Regions from separate parts of the Homo sapiens genome. Here all the other regions are linked to region 2. A link means that fine-mapping ties the variant in region 2 to the expression of a gene that starts in the linked region. Tissue or cell type: whole blood. Region 2 holds a variant in brackets; each other region holds the start of a gene. Each region is shown on its reference strand, or each on the opposite one. Region 1 holds the start of HPGDS (hematopoietic prostaglandin D synthase). Region 2 has its middle 38 kb from the start of SLC7A10. Region 3 holds the start of TCN1 (transcobalamin 1). Region 4 holds the start of CYP11A1 (cytochrome P450 family 11 subfamily A member 1).

Evidence for each region.
Region 1: HPGDS starts here. The variant in region 2 is fine-mapped to the expression of HPGDS in whole blood (TOPMed, PIP above 0.99).
Region 3: TCN1 starts here. The variant in region 2 is fine-mapped to the expression of TCN1 in whole blood (TOPMed, PIP above 0.99).
Region 4: it holds the start of CYP11A1, and the variant in region 2 is fine-mapped to the expression of CYP11A1 in whole blood (TOPMed, PIP 0.99).

Annotation. Positions count from the first base shown.
Region 1 is chr4:94,339,817-94,345,604 of GRCh38, reverse strand. HPGDS (hematopoietic prostaglandin D synthase) reads left to right here and starts at 2,769. Exons shown (of 6, transcript NM_014485.3): 1 at 2,769-2,810.
Region 2 is chr19:33,261,276-33,267,063 of GRCh38, reverse strand. No RefSeq gene overlaps it. Among named protein-coding and RNA genes, the nearest start is that of SLC7A10, 38 kb to the right of the region's middle. The variant G/A (reference allele first, on the strand shown) is at 3,422.
Region 3 is chr11:59,863,391-59,869,178 of GRCh38, reverse strand. TCN1 (transcobalamin 1) reads left to right here and starts at 2,692. Exons shown (of 9, transcript NM_001062.4): 1 at 2,692-2,787; 2 at 5,093-5,272. The coding sequence starts at 2,709.
Region 4 is chr15:74,365,231-74,370,122 of GRCh38, reverse strand. It overlaps CYP11A1 (cytochrome P450 family 11 subfamily A member 1), which reads left to right and starts at 2,477. Exons shown (of 9, transcript NM_000781.3): 1 at 2,477-2,806. The coding sequence starts at 2,538. It overlaps LOC124903524 (a long non-coding RNA gene), which reads right to left and starts at 4,661. Exons shown (of 2, transcript XR_007064709.1): 1 at 4,618-4,661; 2 at 1-4,461. RefSeq lists enhancers at 549-607, 777-899, 2,321-2,345, a promoter at 125-2,527 and a silencer at 3,935-4,094.

The sequences.
Region 1 (5,788 bases), not on the chromosome of region 2:
TGTGTGGCATGAAGAAGTCACTGCCCTGGAGAGCAGGGAACTGAGAGGTAACAATCCATGAGGGGTTTTCACTTTGCCCTTGCCCTTTTCCTCCTCCCTATTCCAGTAGACACTTGGCTCCGTGCTCATTTCCTCAGAAGAGGATGAAGCAGGGTGAAAAATGAAAGTTGCCTGACAGCTACTTCTCTTTCTGCTGTTAGTGCCCAAACCCAACCACAGAAAAGGAAAGAATTCTTGAGCATAGATTCTTGAAGGGAAACGATTTTCCCTTCAGGTGAACTGCTAATAATATTAACAATTGCTCTCACTCATGGATCCCTAACTATGCATTAGGCACACTTTGAAGCACATATCTGTGTACTCATTTAATTCTGTAAAAGCTTATGAGAGAGTTATTACTAATATTGTTAGAATGCTCCATGAAGATTTGTTTTTGTCTGATTTTATTTAGTGCTATATCTCTATTTATTTACTTATTTATTTTTGAGATGGAGTCTCGCTCTGTCGCCAGGCTGGAGTGTAGTGGCACGCTCTCGGCTCACTGCAATCTCTGCCTCCCGGGTTCAAGCGATTCTCCTGCCTCACACTCCCGCGTAGCTGGGATTACAGGCGTGGGCCACCACACCTGGCTGATTTTTGTATTTTTAGTAGAGATGGAGTTTCACCATGTTGACCAGGATGGTCTCCATCTCCTGACCTTGTGATCCACCTGCCTCGGCCTCCCAAAGTGCTGGGATTACAGGAGTGAGCCACCGCGCCCAGCCTTATTTACTGCTATATCTCTAGCGTTCAGAACAATACCTGGCAAAGATTAGGAACAAATAAATATTTATTGTAGAATCAATCTCCATCTAAAGGTGAAGGAGCTCAGGCACAGAGAGATTAAGTTACCTGCCCAAAGGCCCACAGCTGGTAGAAGACTAGGAGAGTTAGAGCACCCCCACCTGGGCTGGGAGAAGAGACAAGAGGATGGGAAAGCTGTGCTTCCCGAGTAGAGGAGATCTGGGACCCTCTCCTGGGACCCTCTTGTGCCTCCAGGGAGGTAGAAAGACCACAGAGAAGAAGTGGCTCTGTTGGGTACTGGGCAGGTGGAATCTCAGGCAGCGTTGTGATGAAACCACCACACTGGGGCAAGAAGGTAGCAAAATGAGAATGCTACAGGAGCTGCAGAGAGCTCCTGGCGTGGAGGCCATGCACACAAGGACAATGGATGCCTCTAGAGCAGCCTCTGTTGATCGGTGACCAAGGATCAAGTGGCTGCTCCTTCCCCAATCCTTGATGTGTTACTCTGCTTTCCTCCAGCCAAAACAACTGGTCGTAAAAGATAAAATTGTAATACAAAATGAGAAAAGTGTTATTTTTTGTATACTTGATTTTTTTTTAACTGAAGCAGTCTCGTATTATATATAGGCAGCATTATGTAAGGAAAAATATTAAATGTGTCATCAGAAGGCCTAGATTTTAATCCTAGCTTGTCCCAACAAAAATTCGCAGGCAATTTACCTAATTTCCCTATGTCTCAGTTTCCTCATTTATAAAAATAGGGATTAAAAATCATTGAGGTGAGGATAAAAAGATTTTTTTGAAAATATAAGTTAAAGCTGTCAAAGATAATAAATGCATTGTGTTAATTTTGTATAGCTCCCACTCCCATCCCATTTGCACTTGATTTTGACACACATGTATCCTTTTTTGGTGGGTAAAGGGCTACACTTGCGTCTTCTCTTTTTACATACTAGTATTTACATTTATTTTCATTTCTGACGTTTATACTAAGTGGATGTAAACATATTTTTCAAAATTAAAAGCACTTTAGAAATAAGAAATATTAAATGATTGATATGTTGCTATTGTTGCCTGTGGGAGTAATTTTCTGGAAGTTGAAAGCCAGCTGGTCATTGAAATGTTTCATGGATAATCCTCAGGCTCAGTAAGGCCCAGGCAGGCATTTTATTGGATCTTTTCACTGAGCTGTCCTAATATTATAGATAAAAATAATTCCTGCACTAAGAAGTGAAACAATAAATTTCTAAAATGTCAGGCATTTGTTACTAAATTGTAAAAGGATCACAAACAAGATGAATTGGAAACTTCTACACCAGGTTTACTTTAAACACTTTGGCTTTTCTGAGAAATGAGAGTAAATGAAATAAACCAGCAACAATGCAAATTTACAGTCCTTGCAAAAACGTGAACTATAAATTAGGGTTATTCTATCATCAGATGTATATTAGTGGTCATGACATGCCTGGCACTCCTCTTAGAACTGAGGAGACAATAGTGAAAAAGACAGTGAAGTGCCTGCCTTTACAGAGCTTACATTCCACTGGGAGAAACCAAAAACAAACAAGTTAAATACACCACATTGTTAGACACTGCCTCGAAGGAACATACAGCAGGTACAGGAGAGACTGTTTCTAAAATAGAGAAGCAAGTCATGTGCACATCTGCAAAGATGATTTCATTACATTCAGGTTTTCTTATTCTCCAGGAGCCTATGGTGTAAAACTGAAAATAAGTGAACATGTAACAGTGGGCATACATATGCAGCTATAACTTTGACTTTACCTTGTATACAAATGTGTTGGTTTATTTATACCCAGATATCCTGTATAACCAGCAGTCTTCGCAGGCTTGAACTGCCTGGCATGCATGTTTTATCTAAGAAAAGAAGGAAGAGCGTTAGGTAGAAGGAAGTTGCCTGTCCTCTCACTGGCTCGTGATTATCACTTACTCGTCATATAAACCCAAGGCACAGTCACATACCCAGGGATACAAGACACTGCAGACTCCCGAGAGACATAACACAGGTAAGTCATATTACTGAACTCCACATAGGTAATAAATGAGATATGCTTTACTCTTTACTTCAGAGTTTTTATTATTCTCATATCCTGTTTGTGACTAACTGTCTTGTGAGCTATTTTCATGATGGTGCTCACTCTGACCTTGTCTTACCCAGAACCTCTCCATATATGCGAATATGTGAAACTCAAATAGTCATTTTTAAGGAAATATAGGTACAGGAGATTTAAGAAGATCTCTTCAAGTGGATTTTAACATAGAAAATATAATCAATGCTAGAGGAAAAATCCTGTCTTAATCAGGGTTTGTTACTACTTCCAGAATTTTCCCAAGTGATTCTTCAATAACTTGGATTGATGGAGTAGAGAATATTATCTCATGGCTGTTCAATTTCTTTCCTTTGCTTTAAAGTTTAAGACTTTTACTGGTAATATTTTATATTATTTTAAGGCACATTTTGTTGAAGCATCTCCATGTTTTGATAAGAATTGCAACCTATCATCTTTTGGCTTCAGAGATGGTTTAAGGGATTTACCCCAGGCCAGGAATTTCAACTCACAGCTCCCAAAGGATATTTCAGTTATTCCTCTTGCTTTGGCTTTAATGTGAAACAGTCACTTAAAATGACATTTAGTTGATATTTGATAAAAAAAAAAAAAATAGAGCTTTCAGCTTGCTAATTCAAAGTTAAACATCCAGTGCTTGATTGAAATCAATATCTTACTCAGTCAACAACAATTCTTCTATTTCTCTATTGTCCTATAATTTAACTCCAACCTGGCAACTTTTCCAGAATTGAACTTGAAATGCCCAGGGACACTGTGAAATGAGGGAAATTAACATTCTTTACCATCAAATGTTAGGGGTAATAAAAAGCTGTTTTAATGTCAGTATATGCAAGAAGTTCCCCTGTGAACAATAGTATCTCACATGATTGCTGTCTGAATCCAATTTTTACATTTCAGAACACCAGGGTCTATATAATAGGAGTGTAAACATGCTCTAGGCCATTACATTTTGTATAAGTTTATTACTGGGCAAGTTAAGATCTGCATCTTAAACTCAAAGAAGAGCTATAGCAAATTCACAAGTAATCTTTGTTTTTATATCTCTAACTCAGATTATTGCGCAATTACTAAGCATGTAAAAAACTGTGTCTGGAATGCCCAAATATGTTTGAATTCTTGATGTGTCGTATTTAAGAGTAAGAGCTTACGTTGGCTAACATTTTGTATTGAACTGTAGAATGGTCAATACTTAATTCCTCATTTGTAAGTTTTCTATCTAACAAAATTATTCCAAAAGTTCTCTTTTTTGAACTAAAAATATTTCGGCTGAAGTCTTTATTAAGATGTTTAGTATAGGCATTGGATATTGATTAGCCTGTGTTGTCAGAGAGTTGAAATTGGATTGTTGTCATCTTTCTGGCACAGAGACTAGAATTTTTGAGACTATTTTTTACTGTGCTTTTACAGCAGTATACGGAATAATATATTGTTAAATTGTTTTATTATAAAAGTTTGTAATTTTTTCAATGATTATGTTAAAATTGCCTCTGGGATTGAATTAATCAGATGAAATAAATCAGCATTGTATTAGTTAGTTTTCACGCTGCTGATTAAGACATACCTGAGACTGGGTAATTTATAAAGAAAAAAAAGTTTGGCCGGGCGAGGTGGCTCAGCCTGTAATCCCAACATTTTGGGAGGCCGAGGCTGGCGGATCACCTGAGGTTAGGAGGTCCTGGCCAACATGGCGAAACCACGTCTCTACTAAAAATACAAAAATTAGCTGGGCGCGGTGGTGGGCGTCTGTAATCCCAGCTACTGGGGAGGCTGAGGCAGGGAGAATCGCTTGAACCCGGGAGGCGGATGCTGCAGTGAGCCGAGATTGCGCCACTGCACTCCAGCCTGGGCGACAGAGCAAGACTCCGTCTCAAAAAAAAAAAAAGAAAGAAAAAAAAAAAGAAAAAAATTTGCCGGGCGTGGTGGTTGGTGCCTGTAATCCCAGCTACTCTGGTGGCTGCGGCAGGAGAATCGCTTGAACCCGGGAGGCAGAGGCTGCGGTGAGACGAGATCACGCCATTGCACTCCAGGCTGGGCGACAAGAGTAAAACTCCGTCTCAAAAAAAAAAAAAAAAAAAAAAAAAGGGAGGGGGGCGGGCCGGGCCCGGTGGCTCACCCCTGTAAACCCAGCACTTTGGGAGGCTGAGGCAGGCGGATCACGAGGTCAGGAGATCGAGACCACCCCGGCTAACACGGGGAAACCCCATCTCTATTAAATATACAAAAAAATTAGCTGGGCGTGGTGGCGCGTGCCTGTAGTCCCAGCTACTCGGGAAGCTGAGGCAGGAGAATGGCGTGAACCCGGGAGGTGGAGCTTGCAGTGAGTGGAGATCACGCCACTGCACTCCAGCCTGGGCGACAGAGAGAGACTCCGTCTCAAAAAAAAAAAAAAAAAAAAAAAAAAAAAAAAAAAAAAAAAAAAAGAGAAAGAAAGAAAGAAAGAAAGAAAGAAAGAAAGAAAGAAAGAAAGAAAGGTTTAGACCAGGCACAGTGGCTCACACCTGTAATCCCAGCACTTTGGGAGGCCCAGGCAGGCGGATCACAAGGTCAGATGATCGAGACCATCCTGGCCAACATGGTGAAACCCCATCTCCACTAAAAAATAAAATACAAAAATTAGCTGTATGTGGTGGCGCACACCTATAATCCTAGCTACTTGGGAGACTGAGGCAGGATAATCGCTTGAACCCAGGAGGCGGAGATTTCAGTGAGCCCAGATTGCGCCACTGCACTGCAGTTCCACATGGCTGGGGAGACCTCACCATCATAGCGGAAGAGGAAGGGATGTCTTACATGGCAGCAGGCAAGACAGAACCAGAGCCAAGTTAAAGGGGAAATCCCTTATAAAATGATCAGATCTCGTGAGACTTATTTACTACCATGAAGTCAGTATGGGGGAAACCGCCCCCATGATTCAA
Region 2 (5,788 bases):
GGAGACCCGAGCCCCAAGTTTGCCTGAAGCACCCTGCTCCCTTCAACGAGCCTGGGAATGTGAGGTCTGGAGAAAGGGTGAGGCCTGGGCCGGCTCCACTGCACCTGGAGCCGGGTGCAGTGGCTCACGCCTGTAATCCCAACACTTTGGGAGGCCAAGGTGGGAGGATCGCTTGAGCCCAGGAGTTCAAGCACAACGTGGGCAACATAGCAAGACCCTGTCTCTACAAAAAATACAAATACTAGCCCAGTATGGTGACACATGCCTGTAATTCCAGCTACTCAGGAGGCTGAGGTGGGAGGATCACTTGATCCCACTAGTCTGAGGCCAGCTTGGGCAACATAGTGAGACCCTATCTCTATAAAAAATTAGCCAGGCATAATGGTGCTCACCTGTGGTCCCAGCTACTCAGAAAGCTGAGGCAGGAGAATCACTGAGTCTGCTAGTTTGAGACCAGCTTGGGCAACATAGTGAGACCCCATCTCTATAAAAAGTTAGCCAGGCATGGTGGTGCATGCCCGTAGTCCCAGCTACACAGGAGGCTGGGGCGGGAGGATCACTGGAGCCCAGGAGTTTGAGGCTGCAGTGAGCTGTGTTCGTGCCACTGCACTCCAGCCTGGGCAACAAAGCAAGACCCTATAATTAATAAATAAATAAATAAATAAATAAATAAATAAATAAATGGAAAAAGAAAACTGGAAATCAGAATAGAAGGACCCAGAAGCTGCCAGGGCCACCTCAGAAAGAATTCTGGAACACTGTTGCCTTGGGAAGATAACATCTGGCTGATGGAAGGTCAGAGGCAGGTTACCAGGGAAAGACTCCTGTTTGAAAAGAAGGTCACCGAGGCATCCCTCGTGTCTTCCCACTGCATTTGGTGCACAGCACATGACTCTGGTTCTCTCTCATTCAGGGCCTGGTTATAGCAGAAAGTCTGGCTCTCACTGAGCAAGGACCCAGATGGGGACACTCAGAGAGGTGGGAAAGAATCTCCCCCACCCCGCCAAGGAGGGATGCAGCTGTGCTGTAAGTGATGGTTAAAGCCATCTTTAAGAGAGGCAGGGCGCCATGGCTCACTCTTCTAATACCAGTGCTTTAAGAGGCTGAGGCAGGAGAATTGCTTAAGGCCAGGACTTTGAGACTAGCCTGGGCAACACAGCCATCTCTACAAAAAATACAGAAATTGGCTGGGCATGGTGGTGCCCACCTGTAGTCTCAGCTACTCAGGAGGCTGAGGTGGGAGGATCACTTGAGCCCGGCAGTTTGCAGCTGCGGTGAGCTATGATCGCACCCCAGCACTCCAGCCTGGGAGACAGAGTGAGACACTGTCTCTAAAAAGAAAGAGGGAAGAGAGAAGATGCCCGTAGCTGCTTTAGGTGACAAACGGCCTTGAAGCCGTGAAGGCCCACTCCCTTCCACAGGGAATGCAGCCCCATCTCCGCAAGCCAGTCTCTGAGGCCACCCCTTCTTGCTTCCTCCGCCAGATACCCTGCCCAGCCCCCTCCCCCAAAATGAAGCCAGGTGGGGACCCTCTGTGCTGCTGGCCTCCAGGCCCTGCCCTGCTGCCCCTGCCTTCAGCCCCTACCACCCACACCACCCTGAAACCCTTCCTCTCCCTGGCCACTGTACCTCTCCCAGACCGGCGGTTTGCCTCCAGCTGGAGCCTCCTGGAGGCTGGGAGAGAACCCCTCGCCTGGGTTAACTTTAGTGGTGATTCTAGAAGCAGGACGCTGCTGAGGAAAAGGCCAAACTGTAGCTTTGTCCGCTCCACCCCAAGCCTTTGCCTGAGCTGGAACTTTCCTCTAACAAGCCCTGTAAGAGGAGCTTCACACCATGCTCCCTGTGTGAACCATGGTACCTGTGAGTATTGGCAATGATATTATGCCAATGTGCTATTATGTGCATTTAGCATAAAAGCCACTTGTAAGTAGTCACGTGGCAAGACCACGGCTGGGGCCCAGAGAATCCTGCTGGGGGCCCATAACATGGGATTGGCCCCCTGGAGCTAAGGCCAGGGCTGCAGTGCAGGAGGCCCACACCCGCAGGGGATCCTGCCCGAGGGGCAGGGCTGGATGAGAGGCAGTGAGCCCAGAGCATAGACAGAAGACAGTGGGCGTGTGTGTGTCTTGGTCACTGCGTGCGTCTCTAGGTAACTTTGGTTTGCACGTTTGTGAGGTTGAGCGTCTGTCAATGTGAGTTTCCGTGCATGGCTGGTGACTGCATTTGTGTGTCTGTGCATGGGCCTGGGTACATCCGTGTCTCTCGGTGTGTTTATGGATCTGTTCATTCAATCACTGCCTGGTGCGGCCAGGCCCTAGACAGACTGGAGGGCTCGGTCCCTGCCCCATCAGGCCCACAGTCTGGCAGGAGGTGAGCAGGAAGTAGGAATTACACCCATAATCCCTAGGCAGGATGGTGACAGGGGGAGCTCACGCCTCGAGGGTGGAAGCCCCGAGACAAGGGACCTGCTGCAGCTTGGCACTCGGGGACCCTGGATGCTTTCATGAAGGACAGGAAAGCCGAGTGCCATAGGAGGCATGGGAGTTGTCATGGGGAGGAGAGTTTTCCAGGCAGAGGGGAGAGCATTTGCAAAAGCCGGGGCACTGAGGAGGGGTCGAGGCAGAACTGCAGGTGCTAGGAAGCCAAGGGGTGTGGGAGGTGAGGGCAGGAAGGACAGGAGCTAGACACGCAAGCCTGGAGGCCACCATGATAATGGTGGCTGCTTCCTAGAACCGTGGGAAGGTGAAGTTCGGAAAGCAGCCCGATCATGTGGTCATTTAATAATACGACCATTCTGGGCCGGGCACGGTGGCTCACGCCTGTAATCCCAGCACTTTGGGAGGCCAAGGCGGGCAGATCACGAGGTCAGGAGATCGAGACCATCCCGGCTAACACAGTGAAACCCCATCTCCACTAAAAATACAAAAAATTAGCCGGGGGTGGTGGCGGGCACCTGTAGTCCCAGCTACTCGGGAGGCTGAGGCAGGAGAATGGCGTGAACCTGGGAGGCGGAGCTTGCAGTGAGCTGACACTGCACCACTGCACTCCAGCCTGGGCGACAGAGCAAGACTCCATCTCAAAAAAATAAAATAAAATAAAATAATAATAATAATATGGCCACTCTGTTGGCTAAGAGCCTGGATGAGGCCAGAGCTGCCATCCCATGAAGAGAGATGGTGGCTGGGGACGTGGGGCGGCAGGGGAAGACGTGGACAGGTGCGGGCATGCAGAGGCAATGGAAGGGTGACAGGCAAGGCCTGGCGACGGCTCAGGTGTCAAGGGCCAGGAGGTGTACATGCTGTGTGTGCACACGTGTGCACGTGAGCCTGTACAAACGCCTGCCAGGAGCTCAGGCCAGGCCCTCTCTCCTCTCCCTCTCCCCTCTCCAATCTCTTGCCCGTGTCCCCCACAGCCTCGCCGC[G/A]GACATGACAGTGACGGTAAGAAGGACTCAGTGTTGCAACTGCATTTCCTCTCGAACCCAGGGCCGCCAGAGATTAGCTGAGAGCCCCGTGTGCACTGGGCGATAACACCCCCACCACTCCCCCCGCTTCCTAATCTCTGATTCATTTCCAACTGATAACAGCATGAGGGCCCATGGGCGACGAAGAAACACCCCAGTGGGTCCTACCAAGGCCACTGTCAAGCCACGTGCAGGGACTCCGGGGAGCAGAGACAGGGAGGGCGAAGACCAGGGGTGATTGCAGAGGCAGAGACAGAGAGAGGAAGAAAGAGAATGAGAAGAGAGAGAGAAAATGAAAATGGGGAGAGAATGAGAGAGGGGGAGAAAGAGAGGGAGGGGAGGGCAGCGGGAATGGTCGACGGGTGCAAAAATATGGTTAGGTAGAATGACTAAGATCCAGGATTGATGCATGCAGGCCTTAATACCCAGGTGATGGGTTGATCTGTGCAGCAAACCACCATGGCACGCGTTGACCTATGTAACAAATCTGCACGTCCTGCACATGTATCCCAGAACTTAAAATAATTTTTTTAAAAAAAAGATTCAGTATTTAATAGCACAACAGGGTGATGACAGTCACCAAGAATTTACTGTACATTTAAAAATAATTAAAAGAGCATGATGAGAATGTTTGTAACACAGAGAAAAGATAAATGCTTGAGGGACGGAGACCCCATTAACCCTGATGGATCATGACACATTGCATGCCTGTATTAAAGTATGTCATGTACCCCGTAGATATATGCACCTGCTATGGACCCATACAAATAAAATAAAAAGAAAGAGGAAAGGAAAGAGAATGAAAATGAGAGACAGACAGAGAGAGAGTGAGGATAAGGGGGAGATGGAGACAGGCGGAGAGAGACAGAGAGACACAAACCCCCCAGGTCAGGGCAGGGTGACGAGGAAGAGAGAGGAAACAAGGACAGTGGTGGAGGGACAGACTGACAAATGTGTGCAGATACAGAGAGGGGCTGGGGGGTCCTGGGGGCTAGAAGGACTTACTAAAGTGATAGAGAAACAGAAAAACAGGCCAGGCACAGTGGCTCATGCCTGTAATCCCAGCACTTTGGGAGGCTGAGGCAGGCAGATTACTTGAGGTCAGGAGTTCAAGACCAGCCTGGTCAACATGGCAAAACCCCATCTCTACTAAAAATACAAAATTAGCCAGGCGTGGTGGCGCACACCTGTAATCCCAGCTACTCGGGAGGCTGAGGCAGGAGAATCGCTTGAGCCCAAGAGGTGGAGGTTGCAGTGAGCCAAGATCGTGCCACTGCACTCCAGCCTGGGCAACAGAGTGAGATTTTGTCTCAAAATAAGAAACAGAAAAACAGAGAGAAGGGACTGAGTGAGAGCAAGAAAGGGAAGAGGTGACCCAAGGTCAGGAGACAGAGGGAGTGAAAAGGAGAGAGCAAGACGGTGAGTGGTGGGGTGCGAGGCTGGATGGGCCCTCCCTGGCCCTGCCCATACTGCCTAGACACCATGGGTTAGGGCAGGACAATGATTTTACTGGCTCGACCCCTGCCAGGTACAGGCCTCAGCTGGGGCAGGGTGGCAGGGACAGCACACACCCCTGACCAGTCCAGAGAGCCCCAACCCTCAGGTGGGGCAGGCAGGGCTGTGGGCTGCACAGAGCTGAGCGGGGCGGATGGAGCCATGCTCCTTGTCCATGGACTCGGCCAGAGCCAAGGAGACAGAGCAACCCATCGGGTCTATGTGGATCCTGACGGGGTCTGGCAGGGCTGGACAGTCAAGGTTCGGGGGTCTGGGCTCAACCCCAGGGCTGTGATGGCGTGGCAGCCATCTGTGCTTTCCCAGAGCAGGCAGGAAGTGCCTGCAGGGAGCTGGAACCGCAGTGCTGGTGCTCAGGGCTGGGACAGGAGGGAGCCGGTTTCCCTCCACTCCCCTCCCCAACCGAGCACTCCCCTGGGTTCACAGTCTGGGTCATGTGGTGATGCTGAGAGTTTAGTGGAAGAGGAAATGGGAGCTCCAGGAACTACAGAGGCCCGGCCACCTCCCTTGCTCCTAAGCCCCTGCACCAGATCCCCCCTAAGTATAGAAGAGGGGTACAGACAGCTGCCCACCAGAGGGGCGCCAGGGCCTGGGAAGGATCTCACAGGCTCCTGGGCTCAGGCCTTCCTTTGGGGATGAAGAGGGTTCCCAGAGCAGCCAAGCCAGGGGCTCCGGGCTTAGCAGAGGGGAAGGGGCAGGGGGTGCCCCCTCCACCGACCCCAGTGCTCAGAGCTGGTGGGAGAAGGGGGCCCTATGCAGAGGGAACTTGACGAGCAGGTGCCAGAGAAGCAGAGGCTGAGGAGCAAATCACGAAGC
Region 3 (5,788 bases), not on the chromosome of region 2:
ATGTTGAAACCCTGTCTCTACTAAAAAAAAATAGAAAAGTTAGCCGGTGTGGTGGCAGATACCTGTAATCCCAGCTACTCTGGAGGCTGAGGCAGGAAAATCACTTGGACCCGGGAGGTGGAGTTTCCAGTGAGCTGAGATTGCACCATTGCACTCCAGCTTGGGCGACAAGAGAGAAACTCTGTCTCAAAAACAAACAAACAAACAAACAAACAAACAAAAATATATATTATATAAAATATGTACTCCCATGTTCATTGCAGCATTATTCACAATATCAAAGACATAGAAACAACCTACATATCTGTTGATGGATGAAGGGATAAAAATTGTGATTTATATACACACACACATATATGTGTGTGTGTGTATATATATATTTATATTTATATAATAGAATAGTATTCAGCCATAAAAAAGAAGGAAATAGTGCCCTTTGAGACAGCATGGATGAACCTGAAGAATATCATGCTAAATGAAATAAGTCACAGACAAATACTATGATCTCATTTATATGTAGATTCTAAAAATTATCAAATACATGGAAACAGAGAGTAGAATGGTGGTTTCCACATAAGTTTTATATAAATATGTGAGAGAGAGAAAGAGATTTATTCCAAGGAGTTGATTCATGCCCTTATGGAGGCTAAGAAGTCCCACAGTCTACTGTCTGCATGCAGTAAAAGTCAGTGGAGTGATTCAGGCCAAACTGAAAGCCCAAGAACCAGGGGAGCCGATGGTGTAAATCTCAGTTTGAGGGCTGGAGAAGATAAGATGTCCTAGCTCAAACAGGCTGGCAGGAAGCAAAAAAAGGGTGAATTCCCCCTTCCTTCACCATTTTATTCTATTCAGGGTCTCAATAGATTGATTGATGCACACCTACATTGGAGACGGCATTCTACTTTCCAGAGTCCACCAATTAAAATGCTAATCCTATCTGGAAACACCCTCACAGATACATCGAGAAATAGTGTTTAATCTGGGCACTCAGGTGCCAGTCAAGTTGACACAGAAAATTAACCATCACAGAGGTACAATGCAAATAGTGGCTCATTAAGTCATGACATCCTTAGCTAGGCTGACAGTATTCTCTAATAGTTCTCAGAAGAACTGTGATAGGCAACACTTCTCACATGTAGCAACTGCCCTGGCAGGGCAGAAATTCACATTTGATGTATAGCTCTCTGGTTTTCCTCCTTGGTTAGGAAACTCTCATGGAATCTATCTTAGGAGAAAAATCATAGTTTGGAAACCACTATGCCAAAGATCCCCTCATGTGCTGGGTTCTCCAATACTGCCTGCTTCAATTTCAGACTTACAACTTTTACTTCCGTTTTTAAATTTTTTTATTTCAATTTTTGTAGGTACATAGTAGGTGTATATATTTATGGGGCTCATGAAATGTTTTGATACAGGCATGCAATGCGTAATAATCACATCATAGAGAAGGGGGTATTCATCCTGTCAAGCATTTATCCTTTACGTTACAAACAATCCAGTTATACTATTAGTTATTTAAAATGTACAATTAAATTATTATTGACTATAGTCACCCTGTTATGCTACCAATAGTAGGTCTTATTCATTCTTTCCAATATTTTGTACCCATTAACCCTCCGCATCTCCTTCCCACCACTAGCCTTCCCAGCCCCCAGTAACCATCTTTTCATTCTCTATCTCTATGAATTCAATTGTTTTGATTTTTAGATCCCACAAATAAGTGAGAACATGCAATGTATGTCTTTCTGTGCCTGGCTTATTTCACTTAACATAATTATCTCCAGTTCCATCCATTTTGTCACAACTGACAGGATTTCATTCTTTTATATGGCTGAATAGTACTCCATTGTGTATATGTACATTTGCTGTGTTCATTTATCTGTTGATAGACACTTAGCTTGCTTCCAAATCTTGGTTATTGTAAACAGTGCTGCAACAAACATGGGAGTGCAGATATCTCTTCAATATACTGGTCTTCTTTCTTTTGGGTATATAGCCAGCAGTGGGATTGCTGGATCATATGGTAGCTCTATGTTTAGTTTTTTGAGGAAGCTCCAAACTGTTCTCCATAGTGATTGTACTAATTTACATTCCCACCAACAGTGTACAAGGCTTCCCTTTTCTCTACATCCGTGCCAGCATTTGTTATTGCCTGTGTTTTGAATAAAGCCATTTTTAGCTGAGATGAGAGGATATCTCATTGTAGCTTTGATTTCCATTTATCTGATGATCAATGATGTTAAGCACCTTTTCAAGCACTTTTTCATATGCCTGCTTCCCATTTGGATGTCTTCTTTTACTTCCATTTTTATATGTTGTATGTGTTTGCATGATCAAATCTACTTTATCAGGAAACATAAAACATAAAGTGAAACGGAAAAAAAAGGAAAGATTATAGGAAACAGTCATTTGCCTAATATATCTTCACTGCACGGAAGGCAAATAATAGATATGAAACCCGAAGGTTTAGGACAGGAGACAAAGGAAAGTTATTGCCTTATTCTCCCTAACCACATCCTTCAAGTCTTCTTCCTTATTTATTACATCACATGGACAAATACACTTGACCACACCTCCTGACATTGCTCAATATTTGCTTGAGTGAAAAGAGGCTGAGGCAACCTGAAGGAGGAGCTCTCATTACCTTCTGCCCATCACTTAATAAATAGCCAGCCAATTCATCAACATTCTGGTACACTGTTGGAGAGATGAGACAGTCACACCAGCTGCCCCTAGTGGGGCTCTTACTGTTTTCTTTTATTCCAAGCCAACTATGCGAGATTTGTGGTGAGTAAACTTTGAGCTAAAATTACTCTAGAGTGATAGTCTACTGAAAACTGTTGACAAGAGACTCTATGTAGAGTTACCTGAGAAAAGATCCCATTCCAGTTTCGTATGTGGTTGGACTCCATGAATGATGAAAAGGGTGGCAGGAGATGGTGAGGAAAGTCTCACAATGCATGTTGTTGTAAGAGGAATTATAGATTGTGTATTCACTTGCCTAACTGCTCTTTCTATGCTCAGATCCTCTCTAGCACAGCATCCCTACCAAGTAACTCCCTATTCATGTGACTTTTCAATGACAGAAAATTTATGCTCCCAGAAACTTTTCTAGATCATGGAAAGTTATCTTTTGGTCTTGATATGCAATCTTTTTTCCCTGAAATTCAATGCATGATTTTTGGGTTAACCCCTTGTAACTACATAGAAAAAAATAATAATCTCTTTCAAATAGTGATGACTGCTGTCTTGTCATGAGTGAGTTTAGATGTTCCAAGTTGCATGTCCACCTTCCTTCAACTCTTTCCCAGGACACATGGGATAAAGTTCCATCATCTCTTGCATGGGTGTTGACCCCAGAGATTGTGTGGTTCTGTAAAAGAACTTTAAAGTAAGAGAAGGGAAAACTAAATTCAGGTTTAGTTTGATCCCTTAGTTATTGAATGACCCAACATTTCTGAATTTCTTTAGCTTCATTCATAAATAAAGGATAATGAGGGGAGACTATTGAAGCAAATTATCTCATGAAGTCTGGTGCAGTTCTCAAGTGCATGAATTCTCTTTTGTGAGACTTTACTCTGAAATTGAGCTTCAAACCAGTCCAAAGATTACTAGGTGGTACTATCTGTGCTCTCTAACCAGTAAGAAGAGAACACCACAGAAGACAGGCTTGTATACATACAGGCTAAAGCATAGACTCTTCTGACTCTGATTTTTCTTCTTGGCTTGACATTTCCCCTGTTGGATCCTAAGAATAGGGAATGGCTATGTAGGTTTTAGCTTTCAATTCATTTTAAATAATAATGATAATAATTAAATTTATCTTTGAGACTCAAGGAAGCTGATTTGAGTTGTTGATCAGGAACTAAAAAGTCTGTTTCAGGGCCAGAAAATCTGCTGAGCTGGATGGTTCCACAAAATCTCAGAGAACTGACTCACAATTGTTCCATTGTGTCTGCAACAAACCATGACCTTTCTACAATCACTCTATTCAGATCTTCTTGACTCATTCTTTTAAAGTAAAGAAAACTGGGCAAGAGAAATTACATTTCCTTGATTCTCAAGTATAGTGATAAAAACTCCAGTTGAGCTGGAAATAATAGTATGTGCAGCATTTTACAGTTTATTCGGTGGTTTCTTGTCCAATATCTGTAAGGTAAGTGTTAACAGCCACAATTTTTAAATGAGAAAACTAAGAGTAAAACAAGTTACATAAGTTATTATCCACAGTCATAAGTTAAGGAGCACAAAATGTGGCCAAAATCTGAATCCAAACCTCATGTTCTTCTCACTCTCCCACTAATCCATTAGATAATCTGGAGATATGTAGGATTTGGGGCTACTCCTCAAGATTATGGAAAAATACATTGACAAAGTGTCCTGTGTTTAAATAAATAGTAAATCTTTTTATTCTCCTCTATTTCCTTGGGAGCTATGGATTTTCCTACTTCCACAGTATAATGTGACTTCCCTCCATCTCTGGAATTGGGGCATATTGTAGGCTAAAACTGGAGAGTTTTTTACAGGCTGCATAATGCTAAATAATGATCTCGATGCCCAGCCAGCTGGGTAATCAGACAATGAAGTTTTGGGGTCAATCACCAGTATAACACAGAATTATTACCTGCATTTTCTCAACATTAACCCAGTTGATTTAGAAGATGGAGAAGGAAAGAACTGAATCCAGGAAGTAGAAAGTCCTGCTTACTGAGAGTCAGAAGACATGTAGTCTAGTTTCAGCTCAGCCTCCAATTATGGAAGTTTCTTTAAGGACAATCTATCTAAGCTTCATATACAAAATTAGGGAATGATGCTAGATTTCCCAGGCAGGAGTCTGCCAGTACACAATGATAAGTCTGCACCAGTTGTTAAAATATTAAAACATTTTCATGTTGGTTGTTAAAGGAGTAATGTCTGGCATGGGGGTGGGTTCAAGACCCACCTTTGTATTATTCCACCAACACAGTCTGCAGCCACTGGATTGGTCTAGGTCTGTGCCATATCTGTTACTAAATATTTTTATATAACCCCTGCTGCAAGTCTTACTATTTTCTGAGTATGTGTTTCTTATTTCCTTCCTTCTCTGCCACAGAGGTAAGTGAAGAAAACTACATCCGCCTAAAACCTCTGTTGAATACAATGATCCAGTCAAACTATAACAGGGGAACCAGCGCTGTCAATGTTGTGTTGTCCCTCAAACTTGTTGGAATCCAGATCCAAACCCTGATGCAAAAGATGATCCAACAAATCAAATACAATGTGAAAAGCAGATGTAAGTTGCTGTATATTCTGGAAGATTTAGAAAAAAATCTACCTATTTAAAGATTATCTGCAACTAATCCTAAAAAATTATGCATCCAAAGTATCCCTGCTACATCCCTTCTAATGGTACCAAACTTGAGGTAACAGAAACATGCCCAAAATACAATCCCATGCCATTCACCCTAGAGCTAGGTCTTGCTTCTTTTGGTCTTAAAAACCACTTTTCTTCAAGAAGCCACAAACAAAAGCTATGGATTTTTATCCATTAATGCTGTTATATAAGCTAGCTTAGTTCACAACCACATGGGAATACAGATCATAACTAAGAAAGCTGGTGATGGAAAGGCAACCATGGAACAACCCAGATTTGAACTAGGTATGGGTGGGCCTTGAACCAGTCATGTTAATACTGAGCCTCAGTTTTCTAATTAGTATAAGGGGAAAAGAAGCCACTCTTACCTACCTCATAATATTATTATAAGAATTATGAGAATCCTGAGAGTTTGGATACTCTAAAAGGCAGAAC
Region 4 (4,892 bases), not on the chromosome of region 2:
ATATATTTTGAAATGTATGTATCATTCATTAATCTTCTCAATAGTCCTGAAACAGCCACTGAAAAGTTTTGAAGCAGGGCCAGTTTAATCCACTGAGCTTGGAAGCTGATCCTACACCCTGGTCAAGCTTCAGGGATGGCAGCCGCTTGTGAGAAACCCTGAGCATGAGCCACTCAGCCACCCAGCCACCCAGTCACCCAGCCACCCAGCCACCCAGTCACCCAGAAAAGCTGCTCCTGGGTGCTGCACCCTCGGAAGCTGTGAGATAATAAACATTTATTGTTTTAAGCCACTAAATTTTGGGATAATTTGTTAAGCAGCAGTAAACAGCTAATACATTCAGCCTTGTTTGGAGTGAGTGATGTGTTTCTGGAAGCTCTTTCAGAGAAGTGAGGGAGCTATTCTCCCAGAAGCCACAGCAAACCTTTCCCTGTGTTTCATTGGCCCAAACTGAATCGCTGGCCTATGCTGTGATGTGACCATGGCCATTGGAGAGGATGAGGCAATAACCTCCAGCCCGGGCCACTTCTGGGGAGGCGGTCAGTGCCCCACAACACTGGGGGAGGTGCGGAGGCCTGAACGGAAGTTGGGGTGGCTGCCAAGAGGACCACAAGTTCTTCCATGCCACATCGATTAGGGCTCCTTCTGAGGGAGGAATGTGGGGCTGCGTAGAACAATGGGATTGACTTTAAGTCAGAAAGTTATAAATGTCACCTCAGTGCTGAGACCCTTGGAGGAAAAACTAGTCCTTGGAAGACTGCTTTTCTTTGTGGAAGCTCATCACCCTGCCGCTGCTCGTGAGACACTGCCTTCCTTGGCTGATGTCATTCCAGGCTCAAGGTCATCAGTGAGGCAAAACAGGCTTTCTCCATACTCTCTTTATCAGAAGGTTCATGACTGATGAGGTAGTGGTCACTCCAGCGGGAAGAGCAACAACCACTCTTGATAAGTACTTTTTTTTTTTCTTCTAAAAACTGTTGCTCTAAATTTGTTGAAAGTGGTTCAACAGTATTGGAGTCTGGGGTCAAGTGGCTGTGTAAGGACAACTTTTGCCATTGTGGGTGATCTATGGGCTGACACATACAACAGAAGAGGCCAGGAGGATGTCACTCGTGTGTGTGTGTGTGTGTGTGTGTTTGGTAACAGCTCTATTGAGATATAATTCACACACCATACAATTCACCCATTTAAAGTATGCAATTCAATGGCTTTTAGTGTATCAGAGAGTTGTTCAATAATTACCACAATATACTTTAGAATATTTTCATTTTCATCATCCTAAGAATCCCTACACACTTTATGTCCCATCCTCTAATTCCTCTATCCCCCTAGCTCTAAGCAACCACCAGTCTATTTTCTGTCTCTTAGATGTGTGTTTTAAATGCCTTATTTGCCAGAAAATAAGATTTTGGGGAAAAAAAGCAAGAAGTTGTACCTTCCAATGATAAGTATAAGGTATAGTGTAGATTGCTGTCATGAAATGCTCTACATGGCACATGTATGTTTTCTGACCTACACATTTTTACCAAGTGGGCTGTAATTTTGTTGAAATGACTTGAAAACTCTACAGGTGACTGACCCTTGTTGTTTGGGAAAGTGGTAGGTGCAGGGTGATGGGGGGTGGGTGTGGGGGCTGACCTGGGCTGGAAGGATGGGTCTGGGGATATGATATGATGGGAGGGGGTATGGAAGCAGCTCTGAGGGGAAAGCAGCACAGATCAAGTGTGTGGACAGGGAAGAGCTGACATCCTGAGTTCCATGGCAACCAGATTTGCCAAGGTCTTAGAGTGTGTCCAGAGTGGAGCCTGACCACAGACCTCAGCTCAAGGGACCCAGAGCCCCTCTGAGTCAGCTGTACTGAATTACAGCCCCAAATCTGGGTCAACTGGGGAGAGACGACGAGGATTAGGGTTCCAAGGTGAAACTGTGCCATTGCGCTCCAGCCTGGGCAACAAGAATGAAACTCTCTTAAAATAAAATAAAATAAAATAAAATAAAATAAAATAAAATAGCCTAAGGATGCATTTCTCAGAACTTATCCCTGTTGTTCAATGATGTGTGTCTATACAGTGGGGCCATAACTAAGACGTATGTTGCCCAAGCTGGCAAGATAGCTCTGACCTTCTCTTGGGCCCCTCATTTCCCCCAAACACAGGTTGTCTGCAGTCTTGACCAATGGCTGCCAGGGCATGGACTCCGCTGCAGGGGCCAGTGGGAGGCCCCAGCTCAGGCAAAAGCACAGGCAGATATTTCAGGAGTCTGCTAGGGCTGGCACTGAGGGCAGAGACAGAGGGGTCTCCCTGTCCTTTGGAGAACCTCACGCTGCAGAAATTCCAGACTGAACCTTCATACCGAGTAGGGGAGGAGCTGTCTGCGGGTTTGAGCCTGCAGCAGGAGGAAGGACGTGAACATTTTATCAGCTTCTGGTATGGCCTTGAGCTGGTAGTTATAATCTTGGCCCTGGTGGCCCAGGGCTACAGTCATCCTAGCAGTCCCCGCTGAAGTGGAGCAGGTACAGTCACAGCTGTGGGGACAGCATGCTGGCCAAGGGTCTTCCCCCACGCTCAGTCCTGGTCAAAGGCTGCCAGACCTTTCTGAGTGCCCCCAGGGAGGGGCTGGGGCGTCTCAGGGTGCCCACTGGCGAGGGAGCTGGCATCTCCACCCGCAGTCCTCGCCCCTTCAATGAGATCCCCTCTCCTGGTGACAATGGCTGGCTAAACCTGTACCATTTCTGGAGGGAGACGGGCACACACAAAGTCCACCTTCACCATGTCCAGAATTTCCAGAAGTATGGCCCGATTTACAGGTAAGCCTGGCAGAGGGTGGGAGCCGAAGGGACAGGGAGGAGGAGGGGCCTGGGTAGCCCTGCTGTAGTCCCCACTCCCCCAACAGGCTGTTCTCTGGTTCCAAACTCCTGTCTAACTTCTTTTTTTTTTTTTTTTTTGGTAATACAATACAGAAATATATCAGGGATATTTCAAAATTCAACATTTGAATCTGTGAATGTCTTAAGTACTCTAAACCAGACATCTACTTTTGAAACAATTGGTGGCAAGACCGCCAGCCATCTGTAAGGAAGCTCTTTAATGGGTCCAAACCCCAGGTCTGGCCAGGCATGGTGGCTCACACCCATAATCCCAGCACTTTGGGAGGCCGAGGTGGGCGGATCACTTGAGATCAAGAGTTCGAGACCATCCTGGCCAACATGATGAAACCCCGTCTCTACTAAAAATACAAAAATTAGCTGGGTGTGGTGGCAGGCGCCTGTAATCCCAGCTACTCGGGAGGCTGAAGCAGGAGAATGGCTTGAACCGGAGAGGCAGAGGTTGCAGTGAGCCGAGATCGCACCATTGCAATCCAGCCTGGGCGACAGAGTGAGATTCTGTCTCAAACAAAACAAAACAACCTCCTCGGTCTGAGGAGGGGAGACTGGTGAGGCTAAGTTTTGAATTCCTGGCCCTGTAGCTGTCAGCCCAGCCAGCGAGTTTTAAAAATTGGGAGAAGGCCGGGTGCGGTGGCTCACGCTTGTAATCCCAGCACTTTGGGAGGCTGAGGCAGGCGGATCACTTGAGGACAGGAGTTCGAGATCAACCCGGCCAACATGGTGAAACCCTGTCTCTACTACAAAAATAAATAAATAAATAAATAAATAAATAAATAAAATAAAAAAAATTAGCCGGGCATGGTGGCGGGGGTCTATAATCCCAGCTACTCGGGAGGCTGAGGCAGGACACTCGCCCGAACCCAGGAGGTGGAGGTTGCAGTGAGCCGAGATCATGTCACTGCACTCCCGCCCTGGGCAACAAAAGCGAAACTCTGTCTCAAAAAAAAAAAAAAAAAAAAAATCGGGGGAGGGAGATTTGAAGGTCAGAGCACAGAGTGAAAAGGTCGCAGCGTGGTCAAGTTTGGCGCTAGCGACAGACCCAGCATTCCTCCCAGCGCACGCCGCCGCCCGGGCCGCGCTATTCCGAAATTGGGTCCGCCCTAGCGTGGCCCCCGGCCTGCTCCTGCGCTCTTCGCGGGTCGCTCACCTCCGCCTCCCCTCGACACAGCCCGAGCCCATCCGCCCCCCGGGTCGACCCGCGTTTACCTCAGGGCGAGGTCCAGGCGCTCGGCCCCGCGGAGGCGGCGGCGGCCCCACCGCAGGTCCTAGGTCCCAGTCACTCTGCCGCCAAGTTCCCCAACACGGACTCCGTGCGCTTTGAGGTGTTACGGGGGCGCTGGAGCACTGGCTTCGCTGGCCCTGCCAGGAGGCGGCGGCGAAGCAGGGAGCGACCCGGTATGCGTTTCTCTGCCCGGCCTGCGGCCCTGCAGCATCCACTCCTCGCCTCTGCTGGCCTCTGCCCTCGCTCGCTGCGTTCACCCGAGCTCACCCGAGCCCACCGGAGCCGACAGTGGCGCGCTAAGGTGACGTCCGCGCGGCCGGACCTCTCCTGTCCAACTTCTGATCTTCTTCCAGGCCTGGGATGGTGGTGGGTAAAAGGGAAAGTATTCCTAGTTCCCAGGCCTGAGGCCTCAACCTTCCCCAGATCCCACTCCCTTTGAAACTCTCGGAGAGAGGTGGTTAGAGAACAAGCCCTACTAAATGCCTCCCTACATCCGTTACCCTCCGCACACCTTGCAAGCGAAGTTTGTTGTCCCCATGGTCAGAGGAGGAGACTGAGGCTCAGAGAGGTCACCCAGCTAGATTCCTGTCCTGCTGGGGTGCTGGATCTCACCCCTTGGCCCTGAGGCTCTGAGTCTGTCCCTTCCCTTTCCCAAGAATCGGGCTTGCTTCCTGCTAGGAGGAAAGGCCTTTTTTTTTTTTTTTTGTCTTTGGGCCTCTGTGCCTCCAGGGCTTGTGGCTTTTTCCTGGGAAAACTGCTAAAGCTGTTCCCACGGTGGGCAGCCTT